Linked DNA regions of Homo sapiens: region 1 is linked to region 2. The links come from fine-mapping of genetic effects on plasma protein levels. Region 2 holds a variant in brackets. A gene starts in the other region. All regions are shown on their forward strands.

Region 1 (6,890 bases), not on the chromosome of region 2:
TAACAGCCCCGCCCCACCCCCAGGGCCCAGCAGGTGGGACCTGGGGCCACATGACCCCTCCCCCACCAGCCCCTGCCCTGCCCAGCTCACCCAGTGCGAGTAGATCCGTGCAGTTGTCGCCTCTGCTCATGGCTGCAGATGTGAGAGTCCACAAGCACACTGCTCTGAGCCGAGGGTCAGCCTGGTTCATGGCCTGACGGTTTCCACAGCACTTCTTACTCCCATCCCTCCTCAGGCCCGTACCCCGCAGCTCAGCATCCCCAATACTGGTGGTGGCAAAGTCTCTGGTTTCCGGGGAGGAAGGGGGAGGGGAGGGATGAAAAAAAGAACAAAGACCCCGCCCTGTGCCTGCACCTGCGCCACTCCTGCAGCTCCTGAGCTTCCCCCACCCTCGCTGCCCAGGCCCTTTGCCCCCCTTGAGAAGAGAAGCAGGCCTGTGGGTAATGTGCCACGGGCAGTTGAGTCCCTGAGGACTCTGAGGGCGGGGGGTGGGGGCAGAAGTGGTGTGAAGCAGGACTAACAAGGACAGGAACACCCCTTCTGCTCCAGGATGCCCACCTTCCTCCCTGACTCTGGTCCCAGAAGAAAGATGTATTCCTCAATGAGTATGGTATAAAGTGGAAGGGTCGGGGGAGCCTCCTGGTACCTCTGATCCCATCACACCCTAAGGCTGATCTGAGAGGATATGTGTTTAGATGATGCTTGTTATTGTTTCATTGGGGGCATTATAATTTGGGGGACACCCCCAAACCTCCCCTTTCAACCCACTTCATCCAAACTGTCTGTAAGAACTGTCACTCTCAATAATTAATTGCATTTTAAAACTCTTTGCTGTAGGACTGTCCTGGGAAACTGAGCCCTATCTTGCACATGTTCACTTCAGCGGGTGTAGTACCTGCCATACCTAGAGCTAACTCCATCACGTGCAAGGCTATTGATGTAGGAAGAGGGATTTTAAGTTGCAAATATAAACCTGAGACCAGAAGTCAGAGATGTGTTTTGTCTAGCCCATACAACATTTTTTAAAAGTTTAAAATCAGTGCAGTGGCATGCCAACAATAGGGATGGCAGAAGTCCTGCCCCTTGAGTTGCAGGCAATAAGGGGGTGCATTGTCTGTAGAGAATTTAAAAAATAAAAATCAGTCCTCTTATTATCACCATGTTCCAGAAATTCTGAAAAAAAAAATCAGTGATAAAATTATCCTCCCTGAAAAATATTTTATGGATCTAAGTTTTATATTTTTTTTGAGACAGGGTCTTACTTTGTCTCCCAGGTTGGAGTGCAGTAACACAATCTCAGCTCACTGCAGCCTTGACGATCTCCCGGGCTCAAGTGATCCTCCCATCTCAGCCACCTAAGCAGCTAGGACTACAGGCATGTGCCACCACACCCAGCTAATCTAGTTCATTTTTTGTAGAGATAGGTCTCCCTGTGTTGCCAGGCTGGTCTCAACTCCTGACCTCAAGCAACCTGCCCACCTCGGTCTCCCAAAGTGCTGGAATTACAGGCATGAGCCACTGCGCCCAGCCCAGATCTAACTTTTAAATTGCTGTAGTGGACCAGGTGCAGTGGCTCATTCCTGTAATACCAGCACTTTGGAGGCCAAGGCAGCAGGAGGATTGCTTGAGGCCAGGAGTTCAAAACCAGTCTGAGCAATATAGTGAGACCCTCCATCTCTACCAAAAAACAAACAAAAACAGTAGACAGGCCTGATGACACAAGCGTGTAGTCCTAGCTACTTGGGAGACTGAGGTGGGAGGATCACTTGAGCCCAGGAGTTGGAGGCTGCAGGGAGCTATGATTATGCCACTGCACTCCAGCCTGGGCGACAGACGGAGAGACCCTGTCTCTACAGTAGATGCACAAATACCATTGTCTTACAACTGCCTACAGTATTCAGTATGGTAACATGCTGTAAGCATTGGGGCCTAGGAGCACCAGGCTATACCATGTAGCCTAGATGGGTAATAGGCTACACCATCTAGGTTTGTGAAAATACACTCTATGATGTTTGCACAATGACAAAATTGCCTAGTGACTCATTTCTCAGAACATATCCCTGTTGTTAAGCAATGCATGGCTGTTTTTATGCTGACATGATTATATTTACAAAGTTCAAGGAAAGAAAATATTCACTGAGTTTATTTCTTGGCCCTTATTATTCATTTTATAATTGCCATTGAGAATAATTTTGTCATATAAAGAATGTTTAAATTTGTTTTAATTTTATTTATTTATTTATCTGAGATGGAGTCTCCCTCTGTCGCTCAGACCAGACCGCAGTGGCACAATCTCGGCTCACTTGCCCAGGCTGGAGAGAAGTGGCGTGCCTGGCCATAAAGCATTTTTTTAAATGATCCACTTGAAAAATAAAACTTTGTTCCAGGCATGGTGGCTCATGCCTGCAATTCCAGCACGTTGGGAGGGTGAGGCAAGAGGATCGCTTGAGCCCAGGAGTTCAAGAACAGCTTGGGCAACATGGCAAAACCCCGTCTTTACCAAAAATACAAAAAATTAGCCAGGTGTGATGGTGCACGCCTGTGGTCCCAGCTACTCGAGAGGCTGAGGTGGGAGGATTGCTTGAGCCTAGGAGGTAGAGGTTTCAGTGAGCCAAGATCAAGCCTCTGCACTCCAGCCTGGGCAACAGAGTGAGACCCTGCCCCCCACCCCCAAAAAAAGAAAGAAAACAAGAAAAATTTGGGTCTGGGCATGGTGGCTCACGCCTGTAATCCCAGCACTTTGGGATGCTGAGGTGGGTGGATCACCTGAGGTCAGGAGTTTGAGAGCAGCCTGGTCAACATGGTGAAACCTCGTCTCTACTAAAAATACAAAAATTAGCCGGGCATGGTGGCAGGTACCTGTAATCCCAGCTACTCTGGAGGCTGAGGCACAAGAATTGCTTAAACCCAGGAGGTGGAGGCTGCAGTGAGCCAAGATCACTCCACTGCACTGCAGCCTGGGCGACAGAGCAAGACTCCATCTCAAAAAAAAAAAAAAAAAGAAAGAAAGAAAAATTTGGGCCAGGTGTGATGGCTCACACCTGTAATCACAGCACTTTGAGAGGCTGAGGTGGGAGGATAGCTTGGGCCCAAGAGTTTGAGACCAGCCTAACCAACATAGTGAGATTCCCATCTCTGCAAAAAATTAAAAAATTAGCGAGGCATGGGGGCATGTGTGCCTGTAGTCACAGCTACTTAAGAGGCTGAAGTGGGAAGATTGCTTGAGCCTGGGAGATAGAGGCAGCAGTAAGCCATGATTGTGCCACTGCACCACTCCAGCCTGGGCAACAGAGTGAGAGCTTGTCTCAAAAAAAAAAAAAAAAAAAGACAGAAAAGAAAGAAAAATGTTTTTTAAATGATCCGGAACAGGCAAGGTGGCTCACACTTGTAATCCCAGTACTTTGGGAGGCTGAGGCAGGCAGATTCCTTGAGGCCAGAAGTTCAAGACCAGCCTGGGCAATACCCTGGTCTCTACAAAAAACAAACAAACAAACAAACAAAAAACAACAACAAAAAAACACACAAATTAGCTGGGCATGGTGGTGTGCACCTGCAGTCCCAGGTACTCAGGAGGCTGATCCAAGAAATTTGGGGCTGCAGTGAGCCATGGTCTCACCACTGCACTCCTGACTGGGCAGCAGAGGGAGACCCTGTCTCTCTCTCTCTCTCTCACACACACACACACACACACACACACACACACACACACACAAAGACCACTTGGTGTCAAATATGCTAAGTATGCCACTGATTCCTTGTCAACAGTTAAAAATTGGGAGATTTCAAATTTTTAAAATTCTAATTTGTTGATTCCTTCAAAAAAAGATCTGGCAATAGTGCCCTGAGTTCTCTAAAGGCAATAATCAGTTGGGGACCACTTATCATTATTATATCTGGCCTGAACCCCTTATTTACACCGACTGTGCCAACTGGCTTAGATTCAAGATTTCTATTACCCTGCTTTGCGTACCCAGGCTGTCACTGGGTCATCAGCTAGACCACTGGTCCCCAGCCGTTTTGGCACCAGGGACAGGTTTTGTGGGAGACAATTTTTCCATGCACAGGAGTATGGGAGGAGGGGATGGTTTTGGGATAAAACTGTTCCACCTCAGATCATCAGGTATTGTGGTTTTTTTGTTCTGTTTTGTTTTTTTGACAGGGTCTCGCTCTGTCACCCAGGCTGGAGTGCAGTGGTGCAATCTTGGCTCACTGCAACCTCGCCTCCTGGGTTCAAGCAATTCTTATGCCTCAGCCTCCCAAGTAGCTAGGATTACAGGCATGCGCCACCATGCGCAGCTAATTTTTGTATTTTTATTAGAGACTTTTTTTTTTTTTTAACCATATTGTCCAGGCTGGTCTTGAACTCCTGGCCTCAAGAGATCCACCCACCTTGGCTTCCCAAAGTGCTGGGATTACAGGCATCAGCCACTGCACCTGGCCTAGATTTTCATAAGGAGCCCACAACATCACGTGCATGCACAATTCACAATAGGGTTCGTGGCCCTATGAGAATCTAACACTGCACTGATCTGACAGGAGACAGAGCTCAGGCGGTAATGCCAGGATGGAGAGTGGCTGTATATACAGATGAAGCTTCCCTCGCTACTCCGCCGCTCACCCTTGCTCCTCCGCTGCTCACCTCCTGCTGTGCGGCCCAGTTCCTAACAGGCCATGGACCAATAGTGTTGGGGACCCTTGAACTACACTATGATAACTCCCCTTGGTGAGGGTTTCTCCCTGTCCTGCCCTTCCTCCTCCTTTCAGGAAAAACAAGAAGACACACCCATATTTCATTTATTTATTTATTTATTTATTTATTTATTTATTTATTTAGAGATGGAGTCTTGCTCTGACACTGAGGCTGGAGTGCAGTGGCGCGATCTCTGTTCACTGCAACCTCCGCCTCCCAGGTTGAAGCTATTCTTATGCCTCGGCCTCCTGAATAGCTGGGATTACAGGTGCTGGCCACCACACCTGGTTAATTTTTGTTTTTGTTTTGTTTTTCTGAGGCGGTGTCTCACTCGTTTGCCCAGGCTGGAGTGCAGTGGCACGATTTCGGCTTACTGCAACCTCCACCTCCCAGGTTCCCGTGATTCTCCTGTCTCAGCCTCCCAAATAGCTGGGACTGCAGGCGCCCGCCACCACACCCGGCTAATTTTTCTATTTTTAATAGAGACGAGATTTAGCCATGTTGGCCAGGCTGGTCTCAAACTCTTGACCTCAGGTGATCCTCCTGCCTCGGCCTCCCAAAGTGCTGGGATTAGAGGCATAAGCCACCGATCTTGGCTTCATTCATTTATTTAACACACATGATGTACTGATTGCCTGTTTGTATGCCAGGCTCTGGAGATAAAAATGTGATGAATGGAAATGGTTTCATGTCAGGGAGCTCTTGATCTAACTAGACAGATGACCCAGTGTATCCCAATTAAGAGACCATGGAAGGCTCTGTGGAACAGAAGGAATACCTGCCTGCCTGGTGAAGTCATGGAAGACAAGGATGGGGAAAGGCTGTTCGACAGAAGGTATAGAGACAGGCAAAAAACTGGTGAAATCACCACCCTGCCTCTTACCTGATTAGTAGCATACTTAACCTTGCTGAATTGCAGTTGCCTCATTCTTTGAAAGAGCTTAACTATATTACCCTTTTGGGTCATTTTAACCATTCATTAATTTCATTCAACAACGATTCATTGAGTGCCTGCTATCGCCAGGCGCCACGTGCTGTGCTAGGCTCTGGGAGTAAAATGGTAAAGAAAAAAGAGAGGTGGCTCCTGCCCTTGTGGAATTTAGGACCAGCCTAGCTCAAGGGTCTCCAACACCCGGCCACAGGCCAGCACCAGCCTGTGGCCTGTTAGGCTCCGGGCCACATAGCAGGATGTGGGCAGTGGGGCCAGCAATCATTACCGCCTGAGCTCCGCCTCCTGTCAGATGAGCACGGCATTAGATTCTCATAGGAGCGCGAACCATATTGTGAACTGTGCATGGGAGGGATCTAGGTTGCACGCTCCTCGTGAGAATCTAATGCTTGACGATCTGAAGTGGAACAGTTTCATCCGGAAACCATCCCTCCACCCCGCTTCGTCCATGGAAAAATTGTCTTCCACGAAACCGGTCCCTGATGCCAAAAAGGTTGGGGACTGCTTGTCTAGTGGTATTGAAGAAAGTGAAATAGCGGCACTAAAGAATAAATTAGAAGTTGAATTAAGGGTTCCGAATGATGGGAACACACTTGAGCTGAGAACTGAAGGTCGTGTAGAACCCAGTATGCAGAAAGGGAATGCAGCGGCATGTCAGGGAGAGTCAGTGTAATTTCAACTGTCTGGCTTACAGTAGTAGCTGCTCAAGTTAAAAAATCACTAGAGTCCGTCGGGGTGGCACGTGCCTGTAATGTCAACTACCCGGGAGGCTGAAGCGGGAGGATCCCAGGAGTTTAAGACCAGCCTGGGCAAGAGAGCGACCCGCCGTTCCAAAAAAAAAAAAATCACTAATAAGTAGGCACGGTTCTAACTTGAGTGATCCCATTTAATCATCATAGCTCTTGAAGTAAGTGCTTATCTTCATTCCTCAGAGTGGAAAGGAAGGCACGGAGAGAGAACTAAGTTTCACAAGGTCACCGCTCTTGAGTACAGGAGGCAGGATTCTAGCCCAAGCAGAGTCCATATGTTGTGTACCAGCTACACAGTGAATGGTGGCTACTATGGCGTTTGCCAAAGGGAGAGGGAGGTAGAAGAGGAGGCTGTTTCAGGAATGCTCCATATTTGGAGTAATGAGCACAAGGACTTCATAGCAAGGCCAAGAACAGCGTAAAGCTGCCCGCGCATGAAAAGCAGCCGCGTTGACCGGGCGCGGTGTCACGCCTGTAATCCCAGCACTTTGGGAGGGCGAGG
Region 2 (16,238 bases):
CGTGGTGGCGGGAGCCTGTAATCGCAGTTACCCTGGAGGCTGAGGCAGGAGAATTGCTTGAACCCGAGAGACGGAAGTTGCACTGAGCCGAGATCGCGCCACTGCACTCCAGCCTGGGTGACAGGGCGAGACAACGTCTCAAAAAAAAAAAAAAAAAGCCCTAAAGGACCACTCTTGGATCTGATCCTGAGAAAGTCCCTTAGAAAACATGGCGACGCCAGCCTCACCACCTGTTTCCAAAAGCAGTGTGACGCCCTTCGCTCCCTTAGTCAAGCTAATCTTACTAAATAAGGAACAAGCTTCCCCTGAGGCTTGCCCTTCAGCGCACTGGCACTGCCCACCCGAACGGGCGTCACGGATCCTGGTCAGTCTCTAGGATCGCGCTCGCTGATAGGACGCTTCTGGTCGAACGTCCAAACAAGGTGTGCGGTGATTGGGCCGCGGAGGGCGGGGCGTTTGAACGGCGCGTGCGTGGGAGTTCCCCAGGCCGGCGTCATTAGGATCCTGGTGGGCGGTGGGACTTGGGTTCAAAGAAGACCAAGCAGGCAGACGTGTTCGGGGGCCCGCGGGTTCCGAGACTGGAGACTGGACCTTTGGCTGTCCCCACGTGCATTCTAGGTCAACGGTGCGGTGGCAGAACCCTGGGGCTCTCCCCCGCGGAACTCGGCCCTGGCCGAGGCCCCAACCACGCTAGTAGGAGGAGGCCGAGCATCCCTCCTCGAAATCGCGAAATCCCGGCCCGACAATGTAGCCACGGAGTCGAAAGCCGCGTGCGAACTTGGCACTCACAAAGCCTAGATAACCGTCTATTTTCTCCTGTAAAATAGGAGGGATGGACCCCCACAGATCATTGTAAAAGGTTCTTACAAAGAAAAATCCTCCTGGACTGGGCACGGTGGCTCACGCCTGTAATCCCAGCACTTTGAGCGGATCACACTTCGAGACCAACCTGACCAACATGGAGAAACCCCGTCTCTACTAAATTAGCCGGGCGTAGTGGCGCATGCCTGTAATCCCAGCTACTCTGGAGGCTGAGGCAGGAGAATCGCTTTAACCCGGGAGGCAGAGGTTGTGGTGAGCCGAGATCGCGCCATTGCACTCCAGCCTGGGCAACAAGAGCGGAATTCTGTCTCAAAAAAAAAAAAGAGAGAAAAGAAAAATCCTGGAAGTCAAGTAAAAATGTGTGAAGGTGTTTTATAAAATATGAAATATCTAGAATACACAAATCTATAGAAGGACTCGGGGAAAGGGGAGTGAATGCTAATAAATACAGAGGTTCTTTCTGGGGTGATGAAAATGTACTAGTACTGATTGTGGCCGCGCTAGCACAAAAATCCGTTTCATTGGCCAGACGCTATGGCCCAGGGAAAAAAAGAAGGACTAGGGGGAATGGGGAGTGAATGCTAATGAATATGCAGTTTCTTTTTGTGGTCATGAAAGTGCACTAAAATTTTCATGCTAGCACAAAAATTGAATTGTACACTTCAAATAGGTGTATTTGTGATGTGCATTCTAGCTCCATAAAACTCAAAATGTGTGAAAATTCTTTGTAACTTTACTAAAAATTGGGGGCACTCTATAGTTTACAAAACTATCCCCATCCAGGCAGGGCACGGTGGTTCACACCTGTAATCCCAGCACTCTGGGAGTCTGAGGCGGGCGGATCACCTGAGGTGAGGAGTTCAAGACCAGCCCGACCAACATTGTGAAACCCCGTCTCTACTAAAAATACAAAATTAGCCGGGCGTGGTGACGCATGCCTGTAATCCCACTTACTCGGGAGGCTGAGGCAGGAGAATCGCTTGAACCCGGGAGGCAGAGGTTGCAGTGAGCTGAGATCGCACCATTATACTCCAGCCTGGGCAACAAGAACAAAACTCCGACTCAAAAAAAAAAAAATTCTCCATCTAGTCCTCTGAGGTGAGCAGCATTTTGTTTGTTTGTTTGTTTTGTTTGTTTTGAGATGGAGTCTCGCTCTTGTTGCCTAGGCTGGAGTGCAATGATGCGATCTCAGCTCACTACAACCTCTGCCTCCCAGGTTCAAGCGATTCTCCTGCTTCAGCTTCCCGTGTAGCTGGGATTACAGGTGCGCACTACCATGCTTGGCTAATTTTTGTATTTTTAGTAGAGACAGGGTTTCACCATGTTGGCCGGGCTAGTCTCGAATTCCTGACTTCAGGTGATCCACCCACCTCAGCCTCCCAAAGTGCTGGGAGTACAAGTGTGAGCCACCGAGCCCTGCTTATTTATTTATTTATTTATTTAGAGACAGAGTCTCTGTCATCCAGGCTAGAGTGCAGTGGCACTATTTCAGCTTACTACAGCCTCCGCCTCCCAGAGCTAAAGCAATTCTCCTGCCTCAGCCTCCTGAGTAGCTGGGATTACAGGCATGTGCCACCACACCCGGCTAATTTTTGTATTTTTAGCAGGTGGCGTTTCGCCATGTTGGCCAGGCTGGTGGTGGCACAATTGGAGGGCAGAAGGGACAGTAAAAGATGCCCTAGAAGCTCAGAAGAAGGAAAGACCTCAGAAGGCTTCGACGCATGGGTGGGGCTGCTGTTGCAGCTGGACCTTCAAGGATGATAGAATCTAAACAAATGCAGTAGTAATGAAAGAGGTAAAAGATGGGAAACCATGGAAAATATACAGAGGTAATAATTAGATGAAGCCCCCACGTGGTGACTTGTGCCTGAAATCACAAGTGTGCCCAGAAACGGGGCCTCACTGTGTTGTCCAGTCTGGTCTCGAACTCCTGTTTCAAGCAATCTTCATGCCTCAGCCTCCTAAAGTGCTGGGATTACAGGAGTGAGCCACTGCATCCGGCCACCCTTCATTTTAAAAGTACATTTCTGGCCAGGTGCGGTGGCTTATGCCTGTAATCCCAGCACGTTGGGAGTCCAAGGCGGGCCAATCACTTGAGGTCAGGACTTCAAGACCAGCTTGGCCAACATGATGAAACCCCATCTGTACTAAAAATACAAAAATTAGCTGGGTGTGGTTGTGTGAACCTGTAATTCCAGCTGCTCAGGCGGCTGAGGCACGAGAATAGCTTGAACCCAGGAGACAGAGGTTGCAGCAAGCTGAGATCGCACCACTGCACTCCAGCCTGGGTGATAGAGTGAGACTCAGTCTCAAAAAAAAAAAAAAAAAAACCACATTTCTGCCCAGGCGCATTGGCTCATGTCCATAATCCAGCGCTTTGGGAGGCTAAGGTGGGTAGATCACCTGAGGTCAGGAGTTGGAGACCAGCCTAGCCAAAATGGTGAAACCCCTTCTCTACTAAATACAAAAAATTAGCTGGGCGTGGTGGCAGGTGCCTGTAATCCCAGCTACTCAGGAGGCTGAGGCAGGAGAATCGCTTAAACTGGGAAGGCGGAAGTTGCAGTGAGCTGAGATCGTGCCATTGCACTCCAGCCTGGACAACAGCGAAACTCTAAAAAAAAAAAAAAAAAATTAGCCGGGCGTGGTGGCATCCGCCTGTAATCCCAGCTACTCAGGAGGCTGAGGCAGGAGAATCACTTGAACCCAGGAGGTAGAGCTTGCAGTGAGCCAAGATCGCACCATTGCACTCCAGCCTGGGCAACAAGAGTGAAACTCCATCGCAAAAAAACATAATAGTAAGGCCGGGCGCGGTGGCTCAAGCCTGTAATCCCAGCACTTTGGGAGGCCGAGGCGGGCAGATCACAAGGTCAGGAGATCAAGACCATCCTGACTAACACGGTGAAACCCCGTCTCTATTAAAAATACAAAAAATTAGCTGGGTGTGGTGGCGGGTGCCTGTAGTCCCAGCTGCTCAGGAGGCTGAGGCAGGAGAATGGCATGAACCTGGGAGGCGGAGCTTGCAGTGAGCCGAGATCGTGCCACTGCACTCTAGCCTGGGCGACAGAGCAAGACTCCATCTCAAAAAATAATAATAATAATAATAATAATAAATAAATAAAATATATTTCCCCAAGGTTCAAGCCTCCACCCTCTTTGCCTTGGTTTCAATATACTGTAGGCCAGTGATTCCCAACTGGGGGTGACTGCTCCTAGAGGGCATTTGGCAATGTCTGGAGACATTTTTGTTTGTCACAAATGGGCAGAAAGACAGGGAGGAGACGTAGGTGCTACTGACATCTAGTGGGTAGAGGCTAGGGATGCTGCTATTAATACTACATCCTACAATGCACAGGACAGCTCTTCACAGGAATTATCTGGTCCAAAATATTAATTGCTCTGAGGTTGAGTAACCCCCTTCTAGGCCAACACATCTAAATGGCTGCTAAATATTTTCACATGATTATTGGGTTATGAGTTTATTTTTCCTAGAAACTTTCACTGACTACTCAATTAGACTTCCCTCCTGTTACTAGCAATATTAGACCTAATGTCCCAAAACATGGGTGTTATCTGAGTCCTTCCTTTCCATGCTTTTCCCTGCCAGTCCTGAGAGTCCATTATGTACTGGTAGATTAGGATAAATCAGTTATTTTATTTAAAAATGTTCATTCTGAGGCCAGGCACAGTGGCTCACGCCTGTAATCCCAGCACTTTGAGAGGCCCAGGAAGGCAGATCATCTGAGGTCAGGAGTTCGAGACCAGCCTGGCCAACATGGTGAAACCCCATCTCTACTAAAAATACAAAAATTAGCCGGGCATGGTGGTGGGCACCTGTAATCCCAGCTACTGGGGAGGCTGAGGCAGGAGAATCACTTGAACCTGGGAGGCGGAGGTTGCAGTGAGTTGAGATGGCACTATTGCACTCCAGCCTGGATGACAAGAGCAAAACTCTGTCTCAACAACAACAACAACAACAACAACAACAACGGACCGGCGCAGTGGCTCACGCTGGTAATCCCAGCACTTTGGGAGGCTGAGGCGGGAGGATCACCTGAGGACAGGAGTTTGAGAGCAGCCTGGCCAACATGGCGAAACCCCGCCTCTACAAAATAAAATGAAATAAAATAATACAAAAATTAGCCAGATGTGGTGGCAGGCGCCTGTAATCCCAGCTACCTAGGAGGCTGAGGCAGGAGAATTGCTGGAACCCAGGAGGCAGAGGGTGCAGTGAGCCGAGATCACACCACTGCACTCTAGCCTGGGCGACAGAGCAAGACTCTGTTTCAACAACAACAAAAATAAATAAATAAAAAATTGTCCTAGCAGCCGGATGCGGTGGCTTATGCCTGTAATCCCAGCACTTTGGGAGGCCGAGGCGGGTGGATCACGAGGTCAGGAGTTGAAGACCAGCCTGACCAATATGGTGAAACCCCGTCTCTACTAAAAATACAAAAATTAGCTGGGTGTGGTGGCAGCCACCTGTAATCCCAGTACTTGGGAGGCTGAGGCAGAGAATTGTTTGAACCTGGGAGGCAGAGGTTGCAATGAGCCAAGATCATGCCACTGCACTCCAGCCTGGGCAACAGAGTGAGATTCCATCTCAAAAAAAAAGAAAAGCAAAAATTATCAGGGTGTGGTGGCAGGTGCCTGTAATCCCAGCTACTCGGGAGGCTGAGGCAGGAGAATTGGTTGAACCCAGGAAACAGAGGTTGCAGTGAGCCAAGATTGCACCACTGCACTCCAGCCTGGGCAACAGAGCAAGACTCCTTCTCAAAAAATAAAAAATTGTCCTAGCATGGTGGTGTGCGCCTGTAGTCCCGGTTACTTGGGAGGTGGAGGTGGGAGGATCCCTTGAGCCTGGGAGGCAGAGGTTGCAATGAGGTGAGATTGTGCCCCTGCACTCCAGCCTAGGCAAAAGAGTGACACCCTGTCTCAAAAAAAATAAATAAATAAAACAAGAAAACAGAGTCAGGTGCTCATGCCTATAATACCAGCACTTTGGGAGGCCGAAGTGGTAGGACTGCTGGGGTCCAAGAGATCAAGATAACCTGGGTAACAAAACAAGACCCTGTCTCTACAAAAAATTAAAACATAAAAACTTAGCTGAGCGTGGCAGTGCGTGCCTGTAGTCCCAACTACTCAGGAGGCTTAGGCGGGAGGATCGCTTGAGCCCAGTGGCTAGAGGCTGCAGTGAGCCATGCCTGCACCGTTGCACTCCAGCCTGAGCAACAGAGCAAGACCCTGTCTCTTAAAATAAAAATTAGGGCTGGACGTGGTGGTCATGCCTATAATCCCAGCACTTTGGGAGGTGAGGCAGGTGGATCACTTGAGGTCAGGAGTTCAAGACCAGCCTGGCCAACATGATGAAACCTGTCTCTACTAAAAATACAAAAATTAGCTGAGCATGCTGGTGTGCACCTGTAATCATGAAAAGTCAGGATTAAAACCATGCGTATATGTTCGTGTTTATATAAAAAATGAATTTAGATTCTCTACTCAGTTATTAACCTGTTCTCATGTACATGGATGGCCATGGGGCATTCTGCAAATGATGGTGGAGGAGGGACAGTTTTTCACTAAGTGAGACTGTCTGGCACTGTGTAGGACACAACTGATCCCCATGGGTTAACCCATTAATGCCAGAGGTCCTCCATCACTCACTGCGACCAAAACACCCCCTCCTAAAAATTCACAAAACAACCCCTAAGGGGTGGCACTGCCCCTGAGGAGAGCCACTGCTTTCAGGCCACGGAATTAGAGCACAAGGTTCAGCATCTGAGGCGGGATCTGCAGGGATTGGGAGGTGAAAGGATTATTCAGGACTCAGGGAAGCTCAGCTTAATTGGAAGAAAAAGGTAGTGGGGAAAAAATGGGGGGTACAAGCATATGACAACTTCAATATGACAACTTCACCAAATCTCCTAGCAAAGCCCTACCCAAGCATTACATACTGACATATACATTACTTAAATTTTTATTTTTTTGAGATGTAGTCTTGCTCTGTTGCCTAGGCTGGAGTGCAGTGGTGCAATCTCAGCTCACTGCAACCTCCGCTTCTAGGTTCAAGAGATTCTCCTCCCTCAGCCTCCTGAGTAGCTGGGACTACAGGCATGCACCACTATGCCCAGCTAATTTTTGTATTTTTAGTAGAGATGGTGTTTCACCATATTGGCCAGGCTGGTCTTGAACTCCTGACCTCGTGATCCACCTGCCTCGGCCTCCCAAAGTGCTGGGATTACAGGCATGAACCACTGCGCCCAGCCAAAATATATATATATAGAGAGAGAGAGAGAGAGAGAGAGAGAGACAGGTTCTGGCTCTGTTGCCCAGGCTGGATTGCAGTCGTGGCATCTCAGCTCACTGCAACCTCTGCCTCCTGGGCTTAAGCCATCCTCCCACCTCAGCCTCCGGAGTTGCTGGGACTACAGGCTCACACCACCATTCCTGGCTA[A/AT]TTTTTTTTTTTTTTTAGAGACAGGGTTATGCCATATTGCCCAGGCTGGTCTCAAACTCCTGAACTCAAGCAGTCTGCCTGCCTCAGCCTCCCAAAATGCTGGGATTACAGGCGTGAGCCACTGCTCCCAGCGTATTTAAAAAATTTTTTAAAGAATAATGTAATACAGAAAAGTGCACAAACCCTAAGTGTAGGCTCAATGCATTGTCACAAAGTAAACACACCCATATCAAGAAACCAGTACCCATATCAAGAAACCAAAACATTGGCTGGGTGTGGTGGCTCATGACTACAGTCCCAGCCCTTTGGGAGCTGAGGCTGGGGAGGAATGGGTGAGGCCAGGAGTTCAAGAGGAGCCTGGACAACAGAGTGAGACCCCCTCTCTACAAAAACAAAACAAAACAAAAAATATATACATATATATTTAGCTGGGCATGGGGGTTCACACCTGTAGTCCCAGCTACTTAGGAGGCTGAGGTGGGAGGATTGCTTGAGCTCAGGAGTTCAAGGTTGCAGTGAGCCATGATCGCAACACTGCACTCAAGCCTGGGCAACTGAGCAAGACCCTCCCTCCTTTTTTTTTTCTTTACTCTACTTCTCTCCAGCAGAGACCCTGTCTCTACAAAGCAAAACAAAACATCTGTAGCATCCTAAAGGCTCATGTCCCTCCTAGTTACTACCCTACCACAAGAGTAACCACTAGTTCAATTTATTTTTCTTTATTTTCTGTTAGAGATGGGAGTCTTGAACTCCTGGCTTCAAACAATCCTCCCATCACAGCCTCCCAAGTAGCTGGGGTTACAGTTGTGAGCCACCATGCCCACCGTGTAGTTGTAACATTTATTTTTTATTTTATTTTTATTTATTTATTTTTTTATTTTTTGAGATGGCGTTCCGGTCTTATTGCTCAGGCTGGAGTGCAATGGTGCGATCTCGGCTCACTGCAGCTTCCGCCTTCCGGGTTCAAGTGATTCTCCTGCCTCAGCCTCCCGAGTAGCTGGGATTACAAGCATGTGCCACAACATCCAGCTAATTTTGTACTTTTAGTAGAGACGGGGTTTCTCCATGTTGGTCAGGCTGGTCTCAAACTCCCAACCTCAGGTGATCCACCCATCTCGGCCTCCCAAAGTGCTGGGATTACAGGCGTGAGCCACCGCGCCCAGCCTGTAATATTTATTTATTTATTTATTTATTTATTTATTTATTTATTTATTTATTTTTGAGACAGAGTCTAGGCTGGACTGCAGCAGCACGATCTTGGCCCACTGCAACCTCTGCCTCCCCAGTTCAAGCAATTCTCACACCTTAGCCTCCTGAGTAGCTGGGATTACAGGTGCACACCACCATGCCCAGCTAATTTTTTGTATTTTTAGTAGAGACGCAGTTTTGCCATGTTGGCCAGGCTGGTCTCAAACTCCCAACTTCAGGTGATCTGCTTGCCTTGGCCTTCCAAAGTGCTGGGATTACAGGCATGAGCCAATGTGTCCAGCCTATATTGACTTTTAAAAGTAGTATTATAGATGTTTTATTTATCTATTCATTAATTTCATCAGAGTAAAAGGAGTGTTCAAAACTTTTTTTTTTTTTTTTGGCCGGGCACAGTGGCTCATGCCTGTAATCCCAGCAGTTTGGGAGGCCGAGGTGGGCAGATCACGAGGTCAGGAGATTGAGACCAGCCTGGCCAACATGGTGAAACCCCGTCTCTACTAAAATACAAAAAATTAGCTGGGCATGGTGGCACGTGCCTATAGTCCCAGCTACTCCGGAGGCTGAGGCAGGGGAATTGCTTGAATCCAGGAGGCGGAGGTTGCAGTGACCCGAGATTGTGCCACTGCACTCCAGCCTGGTGACAGAGCGAGACTCTGTCTCAAAAAAGAAAAAACAAAACAAACAAACAAAAAAAACTTTTTTTTTTTTTAAGACGTGTGGCCAGGCCCAGTGGCTCACACCTGTAATCCCAGAGCTTTGGGAGGCTGAGGCAGGAGGATCACTTGAGCCCAGGAGTTCAAGACTAGCCTGGGCAACATAGCGAGACCACCCTTATCTCTATAAAAATTTTTCTTTTTTTTCTTTTTTTTTTTAAGGCAGAGTCTTGCTCTTTCGGGCAGGCTGGAGTGCAGTGGCATGATCTCAGCTCACTGCAACCTCCACCTCCCGGGTTCAAGCATTCTCCTGCCTCAGCCTCCCAAGTAGCTAGGATTACAGGCTCGAGCCACCACACTGGGCTAATTTTTTGTATTTTTGTTAGAGACGGGGTTTTGCCATGTTGGCCAGGCTGGTCTTGAACTCCTGACCTCAAATGATCTGCCCACCTCAGCCTCCCAAAGTGTTGGCATTACAGGCATAAGCCACCGCACCCAGCCCAAAAATTGTTTCTTAATTACCCGGGTGTGGTGGCATGTGCCTGTAGTGTTAGCTACTTGGGAGGCTGAGGTGGCAGGATCACTTGAGCCTGGGAGGTCAAGGCTACAGTGAGCTATGATCACGCCAATGCACCCAGCCTGGGTGACCAAGCCAGACTCTGTCTCAAGAAAAAAAAGGCATGTGTTAGCTCTGATGGGCTGACAACCAAATTATCTACATTCTCCTCAATTTCTGCCCCTGGATCTCTGCACTTGCAGTGATGACTGATGCACAGTCTTCCTTCCCAACTCCCTTTCCTTAAAGTCACATTGTTCATCACCTTCTCTGGGAAGCATTCTCCTGTAGCTCTGCAATGTGCCCTTTTGGGAACCTGTACATAAGTTGAGTTGAGCATTTATCTCATCGTGTTGGTCTATTTCATTGTCTCTGAAGACAAGGACGCTCACTGTCTTGTCCACCATAGTGTTTTTGTGTCTGGCTCATTGCTGGAGTTCAACAAATGTACTGAACAAATAAATAGACACCTCAGCCCATATTTAGAGCCCTCCTGCCCCCACAAAAACCTTGACTGTCCCATGTTTAGGCCTTCCTCTTTCTCTAGAGCAAAGGTCACAGTGGTGTGAATCTGTTTTCTGTCTCTTAGACCTCAATGCCTCAGCATTGCCACTCTAGCCATGAGTATTGATCTCCAGACACCTCTATCTGGAAATTTTTTTTTTTTTTTTTAGAGACAGGGTCTCACTCTGTTGCCCAGGCTGGAGTTCAGTGGCTCCATAAACAGCTCATTGCAGCCTTGACCTACCGGGCTCAAGTGATCCTCCTGCCTCAGCCTCTGGAGTAGCTGGGACTCCAGTTGCAGGCCACCATCCCCGGCTGGACTCGCTTTCTGAATGTTGCCTAGATCTGGCCTCCACATGAAAGTATAGGATGCCAGGAATCACCTTTAGACAAGCTGGCAGCTGCCCAGCCCAGCTTCCTCCACTTCATCTGAGCCATCTGTCCTCAGAGGCACCATCAGTGCTCATTTTCTTTTTTTTTTTTTTTTCAGGTGTGACAGCAGCATTCAAAACGACTTTAAGGATTATGTCTGCAATGCAGACTTTACACCTCTCCTGCAAATGGCCCATCCTCTAAAATATCTGCACAGTAATTGCAAGTGGGGACTTTCAAAATTCAGATATTCCATTTTATTTAATGCTGAAACACTAGTACCTACATTTGTTGGTGATGATTAAGTCTGGGTCAAATCAAGACAGAGAAACCACATGGTAATTTGAACAAGGAAAGGTTTAATATTTTAAAAAAATCAACAATAGCCAAGTGCAGTGGCTCATGCCTGTAATCCAAGCACTCTGGGAGGCCGAGGCGGGCAGATCACGAGTTCAGGAGATCGAGACCATCCTGGCTAACACGGTGAAAACACATCTCTACTAAAAATACAAAAAATTAGCTGGGCATGGTGGTGGCAGGCACCTGTAGTCCCAGCTACTCGGGAGCCTGAGGCAGGAGAATCTCTTGAACCCAGGCGGCAGAGGTTGCAGTGAGCTGAGATCATGCTACTGCACTCCAGCCTGGGTGACAGAGTGAGACTCCATCTCAAAAAAAATAATAATAATATAACAATAACAGAGGATTAGAGAAATGATTAGATTGTGTATTATTTTTCTAAAACTGACATAACAAATTACCACAGATTCATTCAAGAGGGCTCAGCTTCACCCCACCTCCCAGACTGGAATGCAAGTCATAGCTCACTGCAGCCTCAAACTTCTGAGCTCAAGTGATTCTCCCACCTCTGCCTCCCAAAGTGCTGGGACTACAGGCATGCACCACCATGCCCCGCTAATTTATTTTACTTTTTTTGGAGAGATGGGGTCTCGCTTTGTTGCCCAGGCTGGTCTCAAACTCTTTGCTTCAAGCAATCCTCCCACCTCAGCCTCCCAAAGTGCTGGGATGACAGGTGTGAGCCACCCCGCCTCGCAAGAATCCTTCCTTGCCTTTTCCAAGCTTTTGGTGGCTGCCGACAATCTTTGGCATTCCTTGGCTTGCAGATGCCACACTCCAATTCCTGCCTCCATTGCTACATGGCATTCTCCCTCTGTACGTCTGTGCCTGTCTTCACATAACATTCTCCTTTCTATGTGTCTGTGTCCAAATTTCCCTCTTCTTGCAAGGACACCAGTCATTATATTACCGCCCATCCTAATCCAGTATGATCTTGATTACATCTGCAGACTCTATTTCCTAATAAGGTCATGGCTGGGCGTGGTGGATCATTCCTGTAATCCCAGCACTTTGGGAGGCCAAGGCGGGAGCATTGCTTGAGCTCAGGAGTTCAAGACCAGCCTCGGCCACATAGTGAGACCTTGTCTATACTAAAAAAAAAAATTAAAAATTACTTTGGGAGGCCAAGGCAGGTGGATCACGAGGTCAAGAGATTGAGACCATCCTGGCCAACATGATGAAACCCTGTCTGTACTAAAAATACAAAAATTAGCTGGGCACGGTGGCACATACCTGTAGTCCCAGCTACTTGGGAGGCTGAGGCAGGAGAATCACTTGAACCCTGCAGGTGGAGGTTGCAGTGAGGCGAGATCGCGCCATTGCACTCCAGCCTGGTGACAGAGCGAGATTCCATCTCAAAAAAATAAATAAATAAAAATAAAAATTAGCAGGGTGTGGAGGTATGTGACTGTGGTCCCAGCTACTCGGGAGGCTGAGGCAGGAGGACTGCTTGAACCCAGGGGGTCAGGGCTGCAGTGAGCCAAGATCCAGCCACTGCACTGCAGCCTGGGTAACAGAGCAAGATCCTGTGTCAAACAACAACAGCAACAACAACAACAACAACAACAACAACAAAATAAGGTCAGATTCAGAGGAAGTGAAAGGTTCAAGATTTGAAAATATCTTTGGTGGGGTGGGGGGGAGGTGGGGAGACAAAATTCTGCCCACTACAGATAATAAGAAGTAAACAGAATTCTAAAAAAAAAAATGCAAGAAGAGCAGATATTAGGTTGGTGCAAAAGTAATTGCGGTTTTGCCATTACTTTTAATGACAAAAACCACAGTTATTTTTGCACCAACCTAATACAAGGAGCAGCCACAGCTCCTCTCAGGCGGAGACAGAGCATACAAGAAAAAGGCTCCTTCTGGCCAGGCGCGGTGGCTCATGCCTGTAACCCCAGCACTTTGGGAGGCCATAGCGGGTGGATCATTTGAGGTCAGGAGTTTGAGACCAGCCTGGTCAACATGGTGAAACCCCATCTCTACTAAAAATACAAAAATTAGACAGGCATGGTGGCATGTGCCCGTAATCCCAGCTACTTGGGAGGCTAAGGCAGAATCGCTTGAGCCTGGGAGGCGGAGGTTGTGGTGAGCCACCACACTCCAGTCTGGGTGACAGAGTGAGACCCTGTCGAAAGAAAGAAAGAGAGAGAGAGAGAAGGAAGGAAGGAAGGAAGGAAGGAAGGAAGGAAGGAAGGAAGGAAGGAAGGAAAAAGAAAGAAGGAAGGAAGGAAGGAAAGGAAGGAAGGAAGGAAGGAAAGAAAGAAAGAGAAAGAAAGAAAGAAAGAAAGAAAGAAAGAAAGAAAGAAAGAAAGAAAGAAAGAAAGAAAGAAAGAAAGAAAAGAAAGAAAGAAAGAAAGACAGACCTCCTTCCTTCCTGAGATCCACAAGTTTTTGGAGAGGGCACAGAAGTACAGAAGTCGCTGAAGTACAGTAGTTGCTGGAGTGTCAGTCTGGTGGAACTTGCTGGAAATCCACCCTCTTGGGTGCCAGGGAAAGCTGTTCATGGGCAGGTGTCTCCACAGAGGAACTCCACTGCAAAACCATCCAGAGGGCACCTGGGGGAGCTGCTGACCCTGGGGTTCTGCTGGCCACCCTGCCCTGCAGAAGCAGGGAGCTGGGAACCCACTTGTGCTGCAGGAGCCTCCCAGGAGGGTTTGCTGAACTGGGAAGCAAAACTCTTTCTTCCTGCAATGTCTCTCCAGCCATCTATTGACAAAACTTAGCATGATGCTGGCTGGTAAAAAAAATTTAAATATATATATATATTTAAAGGGTCCAGGCCAGGCGCGGTGGCTCACGCCTGTAATCCCAACACTTGGGGAGGCCGAGGTGGGCGGATCACGAGGTCAGGAGATCGAGACCATCCTGGCTAACACAGTGAAACCCCATCTCTACTAAAAATACAAAAAATTAGCCGGGCGTGGTGGCGGACACCTATAGTCCCAGCTACTTGGGAGGCTGAGGTGGGAGGATCACTTGAGCCCAGGAGGTCAAGGCTACAGTGAGCCATGATCACACCACTGCACTCCAGCCTGGGTGACAGACCAAGACCTTGTCTAAGAAAAGAAAAAAGAAAGATGGGCCGCCCAGAGTCTAAACGGACCCTGAGTTTCTGAATAATGACACACTGAAGTGCACCCACGGCCACACCAGCAGCCCCACTGGAGGCTGTGTGGGGCCCTCTTGCTAATGCATCAGCATACACTGTGGTACACCCCACAGTGTGTCCACCACCTGTGTAGGCAGTGGGCAAAGTAAAGTTGTTGAAATGGGAAGTCACAAAAAGAGCAGAGGTGAGACCGCAAGATCATGAGGGCTCACATTTGCTGGCCTGGGCTAAGGGCCAAGACTGCCACAGTCTACCTTAGACTTCCATTTGATGAACTCTAGCACCCCAAGTTAGGGTCACACTGGTGGGCTCTTCCTACCAAATACTCAGGTCCAGGACTTTTCTTTGGACTACATCTTTTACCCTTGGTGTCATTGACTTCAAGAGACCTAGAGAATCAAAACTCAGATTAGGGCCAGGTGTGGTGGCTCATGCCTATAATCCCAGCAATTTGGGAGGCCGAGGCGGGCAGATCACTTGAGGCCAGGAGTTCGAGACCAGCTTGGCCAACATGGCGAAACCCCGTCTCTACTAAAAATACAAAAAACTAGCCGGCCGTGGTGGTGAGCACCTGTCGTCCCAGATACTTGGGAGGCTGAGGCACGAGAATCGCTTGAACCCAGGAGGCGGAGGTTGTAGTGAGCTGAGATGGCGCCACTGCACTCCAGCCTGGGCGACAGAGCGTCTCAAAAACAAAAAACAAACAAACAAAAAATACCTAAAAACTCAGGTTAGGCCTGCTCTGCTTTTGAAAGTTTTTCCTGCCCTGGGGCCTGAAAAGCACCTGTGGGGTTTAGGTCTTAATTTGGCAAGGTTGAAAGAATCTCCAAGCACTCACAGCTGGATGAAACATCACTGTACCTCCTCAGGCACCCATACTGCCAGCCCTGATCCAGAGGGAGAGAAACACCTCTACGTGGAAGAACCACGGCGGCCTGCTCCCACCAGAAGTCTGAATGGGTTTCCAGAGGACCCAGCGGACCTCCTGTTACAGAGATGCTGTAGTCCTGCAAGAACGTCTCCCTGCATGAGTCCTTAGGGACGGAGCTGGGGAGCCTCCATTTCCCACATAAGCCCTTCTCGATTATGCTTTCCATATCATCCCTTGTTTGTTTGTCTGTTTTGAGACAGGGTCTCTGTCGCCCAGGCTAGAGTGCAGTGGCGCGATCATAGCCCACTGCAGCTGCGACCTCCCAGGCTCAAGAGAGCCTCCCACCTCAGCCTCCTGAGTAGCTGGGACTACAGGCGTGCGCCACCATGCTCGGCTCATTTTTTTGTATTTTTTTTTTTAGAGATGGGGTCTTGCCATGTTGGCCGGGCTGGTCTTGAACTCCTGGCCTCAAGTGATCCGCTATCTTCTGCCTCCCAAAGTGCTGGGATAACAGGTGTGAGCCACCACACCCGGCCCTGTTTTATCACTTTCATCACTCAATCCCCTGAGAATTATGACACCTAAACCAGGAAGCACCTCTGCACCTTATCTCGGACCCAGGATTCTAGGCTTCAGGGTCTCTCGTTCTGTTAAGAAAACAAAATAAGGACTCGTGCTGGGCGCTCACGCCTGTAATCCCAGCACTTTGGGACGCTGAGGCGGGAGGACTACTTGAGCCCAGGTGTTCAAGATCAGCCTGGGCAACATAGCGAGATCCTGCCTCAAATTAAAAAAAAAAAATTAAAAAAGAAAAGAAGTACTGGTTTGGACCAGGGAATCTGGGGAAGGAGAACTAGTGCAGACATGGGCTTTGGTTAAGCGGTCAGGGCACCTTCATAGCGCTGCAAGAAGCCACTACATGCCCACTTCCTCCCCACCAACAGCCCAGCTTCCAGTAAAGGGTCCATGACGCAGCTCCTCCAAGCAGCAGCGTCCCACCCTGATCCCTTACTCCTCAGGACTATTTACACCTCCCCCATCCTGCGGGCCCCACTTGAGACAGTGGTTCCTGAGAGCCGGGCCCCACTAGCAAGCCAAGGTATATTCTTGGCCTCCTGCAAAGATGCCCCTGTCCTATAGACCTCTGCGCGGACCGTGGGCACCCCCACTTCTCCAGGAAGAAGTAGGTGGGCAACACTCAGGGGAAGTCAAGCTTAGCGCCCCCAGTCTCCTCCCCACTTCGGCTCGGTCCCATCTCTCCAGGACAAGGCGCCAGCAACGGAGCCACAGGCCGCACCAGCCCGTCTTTGATCCCGGGTGTTCGGACTCAGGGC

Direction of the effects. Alleles are on the strand shown, and positions count from the first base shown. The strength of an association depends on the size of the effect and on how common the allele is.
With allele AT in place of A in region 2, the plasma level of the protein whose gene starts at base 268 in region 1 is lower (weak association).

The links. PIP is the chance, under the fine-mapping model, that this variant and not a neighbour inherited with it causes the effect. Protein levels are from antibody-based Olink assays in UK Biobank. Linkage for the fine-mapping came from a reference panel and not from the study's own genotypes, which makes the PIPs less certain.
Region 1: SIT1 starts here. The variant in region 2 is fine-mapped to the plasma level of the SIT1 protein (UK Biobank, PIP 0.96).

Annotation. Positions count from the first base shown.
Region 1 is chr9:35,650,664-35,657,553 of GRCh38, forward strand. SIT1 (signaling threshold regulating transmembrane adaptor 1) reads right to left here and starts at 268. Exons shown (of 5, transcript NM_014450.3): 1 at 91-268. The coding sequence starts at 190. RefSeq lists a silencer at 1-48 and an enhancer at 6,393-6,890.
Region 2 is chr16:30,634,030-30,650,267 of GRCh38, forward strand. No RefSeq gene overlaps it. Among named protein-coding and RNA genes, the nearest start is that of PRR14, 8.8 kb to the right of the region's middle. RefSeq lists enhancers at 1-388, 389-1,339, 15,653-16,170, 16,171-16,238. The variant A/AT (reference allele first, on the strand shown) is at 7,274.